Homo sapiens: one gene and its partner. The gene in region 1 interacts genetically with each later gene. Each region holds a gene or a part of one and is shown in the gene's direction. Other genes may lie near its edges.

The links. Genes that interact genetically often act in the same process or in processes that back each other up.
Region 2: changes in PGK1 (region 1) and MTPAP together harm fitness more than expected from each alone (negative genetic interaction), as found in Homo sapiens cells (one large-scale study listed by BioGRID).

Annotation. Positions count from the first base shown.
Region 1 is NC_000023.11:78,107,248-78,110,747, forward strand, and holds part of PGK1 (phosphoglycerate kinase 1), read left to right. Parts: intron 1-2,619; coding exon 2,620-2,670; intron 2,671-3,500. UniProt on the Homo sapiens protein: Catalyzes one of the two ATP producing reactions in the glycolytic pathway via the reversible conversion of 1,3-diphosphoglycerate to 3-phosphoglycerate.
Region 2 is NC_000010.11:30,335,779-30,339,278, reverse strand, and holds part of MTPAP (poly(A) RNA polymerase, mitochondrial precursor), read left to right. Parts: intron 1-2,251; coding exon 2,252-2,476; intron 2,477-3,500. UniProt on the Homo sapiens protein: Polymerase that creates the 3' poly(A) tail of mitochondrial transcripts. Can use all four nucleotides, but has higher activity with ATP and UTP (in vitro). Plays a role in replication-dependent histone mRNA degradation.

The DNA of each region.
Region 1 (3,500 bases):
AGTAGGAAATTGACATTGGTATAAAGTGTGTATGGTTCTATGCCATTTTATTACGTGCGTAGATTTGTGTAACCGCCACCACAATCAAGATACAGAACTATTAGATCACCACCAAGATCTCCTTCATGCTACCTCTTTATAATAATAACCACCCCCCTTCCTGACTCCTGGTAACTACTGATCTGTCCACTGTTTCTAAAATTTTGTCACTTCAAAAATACTATACAGATTGAATCACATGGTATATAACCTTTTGGGATTAACTTTTTTCACTTAGCATAATGTCCTCAAAATTTATCCACATTGTCACATGTATCAAAAGTTCATACCTGTGTATTGCTGAGTAGTATTCCATGGTGTGGTTGTATTATAGTTTGTTTAACTATCATTGAAGGATATTAGGGTTGTTTCTGATTTGGGGCTATTACAAATACAGCTGCTGTGAACATTTGTATACAAGTCTTGGTATGGACATACGCTGTCATTTTTCATGGGTAAACACCTAGGAGTGGAATTGCTGGGCCACGTCCTTTTGAGGTATCCCCAGACTGTTTTCCAAGGTGGCTGCAGCATTTCACATTTCTACCAGCAGTATTTGAGTAATCAGTTTCTCTGCTTCATTACCAGCTATTTTAGTTATTTTTCGTTCTGATGGATATGTAGTAATAACTGACTTTGTGCCTGAAGCAAAGCTCAGGGGTGTTATAAGGAAACGAAAAAAAAAAAAAAGAAAATTGTGCATATTTTATGTAAAATGGAACAAGTAGAATCTGTAGGCAAGAGCAGTTCCTGTGTTGGAGTCCTCTGAGGAGAAGCTAAAAGCAGAGCTGTTGTGAGTGTAGGAGATAAGGGGAGGTAATCCAGAGGGCATTGAGGAGAGAGTATCAACCAAGTCTAATTCATTAGTAAGCTGACACCATGGCAGCTTGGATAGATGAGACAGTTTCTTAGGTGTCTCTGTCCAAAGATATTCCTCCCTGTAAGGGTTGGGGGTAGAGAGTAGCACTGCAAGAAGTGGCTTGTGCCCATCCTTTTGCCATTAGTCCTTTTGAGCATAGGCCTTCTGGGAGGTTGCATGGGGGAAAATGACCCATGGTAATGGGATATTCTCTCTTCTTTGGAATGTACTTTAAGGCTGGCAGGCTCCTTGTTCAGGATATTTAAAGAAGACAGAGAATCAAGTGGCCTGAAACAAAGTAGAGTGTATTTCTTTCATCAGAGGCTTACTGCCTTTAATTTTGAAGACTTTAAAACATGTTTTACTATAGAATTATTTTTCCTCAGCCTACCTTTGGAAAGGCTGTTCTTCAGTGAGGTAGATTGGAGTTCAGGCCTAGTGGATATAGGAAATTGGTGGTCTTCTCAGTATGTCTGTAGGAGTTTGTAATTGCCTTAGCCTTAGAGAGGAAGGGGTATTTAAAAAGGCAGAGGAAAAAGATGGAGGCTTATAATCAAGGATAGCAGCAGTCTTCTTGATTAGGTCATACTTCACTGTAGTCCCTTTGCAAGTGATGTTAGCTGTTTTTAGTAGTGGTTGATTTACTTGTCAAATCACAGAATTACATTTTGGAGAAACATATAACAACAACACTTTTATGGCATTTACTGTGTGTCAGGTACACTTCTAAGCACTTTACAAATTGCTGACTTACTAATTCTCTCAGTAACTACGAGGTAGATACTGTCATCCCGATGAGAAAAAAATCACTTAAAAATAATCATGGCAGGCACAACTCTTAAACCTTAAAAATAGCTGCCATACATTATTGTTTTCATTCACATTGAAGTAGGCTGAGGTTCCAAGGAGTTCAGAATAATTGGTTCTTAAGAATGATAACATAGTAATCTGTTGGGTAAGAGATACTGCAGTACATTATTTTCTTGTGTCGTCTTGATTACTTCCCTTCTAATTTGCCTGTTTGTCAGGTGGGCTGGGGCACATGTCCCACCCTCTCTTCTCAGGCTTTTTGAAAGAGGCTGTCTTATGTTGTGTGTATTGCTTGAAGGACCCCTAGTCTTAAGGCCCCAGGCTTTCTCCAAAAAGAATGATTTTCTCTTAGTGTGTTTTATTTTTATTTTAATTTTTTTCTCGAGTCATGTTAGTTTCACGAGGACCCAGAAATAGTATCAAGGGAATTAGGATCAAGATGCATTCCTTATTATTCCTCACCCCTCTAGCTGCTACCCGGATACTATTGTGCCAGGCCCAGACAGATATCTTTTTAGGTGGAACTAGCTTTAGCTTCCCAGATCTTCAGGGCTAGTTCCTGTGATTTAAGTTAGGTTTTTTTTTTAAAATTCTTTTTAAAGTATGAATACATACCTAAAAGGGCACAAATCACAAGTTCAAAGAATTACCACAAAATGAGCACATTTGTATGGTCACTGAGGTTAAGAGATAGAACATTACCAGAACCCCAAAGCCTCTGGTGTCGTTATCCCAGTCACCACTCCCGCCATCCTCCCCATGACTAACCACTATTTTGACTTTTAATGCCACTGATTATTTTTAAGATGAGATTTGAATTTCTGACTTATTTAACTGGTTCATTAAAAATGCATCTCCTAGTCTTTGATGGAACAGTAAGTTGATCATGGTCTTGCATCTTTCTTTTTTAGAGTCGACTTCAATGTTCCTATGAAGAACAACCAGATAACAAACAACCAGAGGTAAGGTCCCTGCTAATCCTTGGGCTGGGTTTAAGATGTGTGTAGGTACACAGGATGAAATGTTTTTCCTTTCATATTGTATTATGGAACTGTAGCAACTTAAAACAAATGATTTTGGCTTTCTATCAACCCACTCTCTGATCTGCTTTCTTATTTATGAGAATATACAAATATAAGCAAAATCTTAAGAAAGTGATTCCCCTTCCCTTGTTTTTTGAAAATTAGAAGAATTTGGAGTTCATTTTCTTTTTTTGAGATAGGGTCTCACTCTGTCACCCAGACTGGAGTGTAGTGGTGTGATCACGGTTCACTGCAGCCTTAACCTTCTGGGCTCAAGCAGTCCTCTGGCCTCAGCTTCCCGAGGAGCTGGAACAACAGGTGCACACCACTACACCTGGTTAAATTAAAAAAAAATTTTTTTTTGTAGAGATGGGGTCTCACTATGTTGCCTAGGCTGTTCTCAAACTCCTGGACTCAAGTGATCCTCCTGCCTTGGCTTCCTAAAGTGCTGGGACCACAGGTGTAAGCCCCCATACCTGGCAGAGTTATTCATTTTTAAAGAATATAAAAGTTGGCTGGGTGCGGTGGCTCACATCTGTAATCCCAGCACTTTGGAAGGCCGAGGCAGGAGGATTGCTTGAGGCCAGTAGTTCGAGAACAGCCTGGCCAATATAGTAAGACACCATCTCTATAAAACACACACAAAAAATATAAAAATTTAAGGTTACTTGGCTTCTCTTGCAAAATGAAGAACTATGTAAGAGAAGGATTTTAAAAGTACCAGTAGTTACTAAGGTTATATGTAGTTTTACAAGCCCCCATTCAAATGG
Region 2 (3,500 bases), on another chromosome or scaffold:
CTGACCTCAGGTGATGTGCCCACTTCGGCCTCCCAAACTGCTGGGATTATAGGTGTGAGCCACTACGCCCGGCCCAAGATTCTGTCTCTTCTGTGTTCAAATATTGTTTGTATTTGTCTTGGTGTTTTTTTGTTTGTTTGTTTTTGTTTTTGTTTTGAGACGGACTCTTGCTCTGTCGCCCAGGCTGGAGTGCAGTGGCGTGATCTCAGCTCACTTCAAGCTCCACCTCCTGGGTTCACGCCATTCTCTTGCCTCAGCCTCTCAAGTAGCTGGGACTACAGGCGCCCACCACCATGCCCGGCTAATTTTTTGTATTTTTATTAGAGACGGGGTTTCACTGAGTTAGCCAGGATGGTCTCGATCTCCTGACCTTGTGATCCGCCCGCCTTGGCCTCCCAAAGTGCTGGGATTATAGGCGTGAGCCACTGCACCTGGCCTGTCTTGGTGTTTCTTACTCAGACTTGCCAGACCTTGCTAGTCTTTCCAAAGAATCAACTCATGGCTTTATTTATCAAAATATTATTTTCAAGGTTTAATTTTCTAATAAGAAAATTTTTGCTTCTAATCTATTTCCTTTACTTTTATTGTTATTATTATTATTTTGAGACAGAGTTTTGCTCTTGTTGCCCAGGCTGGAGTGCAATGGCCTGATCGTGGCTCACTGCAACCTCCGCCTCCCAGGTTCAAGCGATTCTCCTGCCTCAGCCTCCCAAGTAGCAGGGATTACAGGCACGCGCCATCACACCTGGCTAATTTTTTGTATTTTTAGTAGATTTGGGGTTTCACCACGTTGGCCAGGCTGGTCTCTAACTCCTGATCTCATGTGATCTGCCTGCCTTGGCCTCCCAAAGTGCTGGGATTACAGGCATGAGCCACCGAGCCCGGCCTCTTTTATTATTTTTGAGTTGAATGCTTAGTTCAGTTCAGTTCAGTTATGTTACGTTATGTTATGTTATGTTAATGTTATGTTGTTATGTTAATGTTATGTTGTTATGTTATGTTATGTTACGTTATTTTTTGAGGTGGAGTCTTGCTCTGTTGCCCAGGCTGGAGTGCAGTGGTGCAATCTCAGCTCACTGTAGCTGCATACTCCTGGACTCAAGTGACCCACCTCAGCCTTCTGAGTAGCTGAGACTACAGATGCATTCCACCATGCCCAGCTAGTTTTTGTATTTTTTTTTTTGGTAGAGTCAGGGTTTCATCACGTTGCCCAGGCTGGTCTCACTCCTGAGCTCAAGCGATCCTCCCGCCTTGGCCTCCCAGTAGTTCACAGGTGTGAGCCACTGTGCCCAGCCAGTTGATATTTTCAATGTTGGTTTCAAATAAGAGCATTTGAAGTTACGATTTTTTTTCACTTCAGATACTCCAGTACACAATTTCAGTATGTGATCATTTTAATGCCAGTCTTCTAGTGGATAGACAGGATTGTTATTCTGAGAAACTGAGAGGTCTTGGGCCTTCATTACTTGAGTATTTCTAGTTTTTCTTGCCCTTTAACATTGGTCTTTCATCCCTTTGAGTTTAAAATGTCTAACGTGGTTGTTTTAACCTCTTCTGGAGTACTTTACTACTTTCATTTTCTTAAAACAATACTTTATACTCATCGCTTACAAAGTTTTAATTCTAGCCAACTTTCATTTTGCTAGTGGCATTCCTCAGAGCTTTTTAAAAATTTTAAAATATTATATAATTTATTTCTTTAGTGAAATAGAGACGAGGTCCTGCTGTGTTGCTTAGGCTGATCTCAAACTCCTTGCCTCATATGATCCGCCTTGGCCTTCCAAAGTATTGAGATTACAGGCATGAGCCACCGCGCCTGGCCTTCTCAGTGGTTTTTAAAGAGTATTTTTTTTTGAGACGGAGTCTTGTTCTTGTTGCCCAGGCTGGAGTGCAATGGTGCGATCTTGGCTCACCACAACCTCTGCCTCCTGGGTTCAAGCGATTCTCCTGCCTCAGCCTCCTGAGTAGCTGGGATTACAGGTATGCGCCACCACGCCCGGCTTATTTTGTATTTTTAGTAGAGATTGGGTTTCTCCATGTTGGTCAGGCTGGTCGCGAAATTCCGGCCTCAGGTGATCCACCTGCCTTGGCCTCCCAAAATGTTGGGATTACAGGCGTGAGCCACTGCGCCAGGCTTTGCATATTTCTAAGGTAGGTCTTCAACGCCACCAAATCTTTGAAAGTAAAATGGTAACTTTTTATGCGACCTGTACTTTTTCTCTATTTTGTTGGTTTTGTTTCGGCTAGCTAGATAGACGATCAGCTGAACACTCTCTTGAAGGAGTTCCAGCTAACAGAGGAGAACACTAAGCTCCGATATCTCACCTGTTCTCTTATTGAAGACATGGCCGCCGCGTATTTTCCAGACTGCATAGTCAGACCCTTTGGCTCCTCAGTCAACACTTTTGGGAAGTTAGGATGTGATTTGGACATGTTTTTGGATCTAGATGAAACCAGAAACCTCAGCGCTCACAAGGTAAGTCTATTTCTTTTGACCACTATAATCATGTAAAGTTAAGAAAGTATAAAAAGAAAAATCTTTGAACTTAATAAAATAGAACTGTTGATTTCTAAACTTATTAAACATTGTGGTTAAAGAATAAGGTGTATTTGTTATTGATTCTTTGGTGAAGTCTTTCTTTGTATTGTTCTACTATGTGATCATTTTTGTGAATATTCTGTAGATATGCAATCAAATAGTTAATTGTTTTCAAGTGTTCAGAAATTTTTCAGTTAAGTCAAAGTTACCTATTGTGTTATTCAAATTATGTATCTTAACTAATTTTTTCTTTTTAATCTTGTGATCTAGTTACTGAGATGTTTTTACATCTCATGATTCTTGGTTTTGTTAATTTCTCTTTAAAATTCTTTTGATTTTTGTTTTATCCAAAGGCTATATTAGCTACATATAGGTATACGATCATCATATTTCCTTATTAGATTGTTTTATTATTATATCCCTCATACATGCTTTATTCATCTCTATAAATACTTTTTTCTTAAGTTCTATTTTATTTGTTAATATGGCCGCTTGGTAGTTGTCTCACATGTCTTCTGTTTCTTTATTTTCAGCCTTTATATATGTTATTTTAGTTTGGGTGTATCTCTTATAAATAGCAGTATGCTTTTACTCCAGTCTATCAGTCTTTGAGTTCAATATGTTTATTGTTACTGCTGATAATTCTTGGACTAATTTCTCCTGTTTTATTTTTTATTTCCTATTTTCTGTGCTTTTGCTTTTCACTTTCTTTTATTTATTTATTTTTTTTGAGGCTGAGTCTCACTCTGTCGCCCAGCCTGGAGTGCAATGGTGCAATCTCGGCTCACTGCAACCTCCACCTCCCGGGTTCAAGTGATTTCTCCTGCCTCAGCCTCCTGAGTAGCTGGGATTACAGGCGCCTGCTACCATGCCCAGCTGATTTTTGTATTTTAGTAGAGACGGGGTTTTACCTCCTTGGTCAGGCTGGTTTTGAACTCCTGACCTCAGGTGATCCACACCC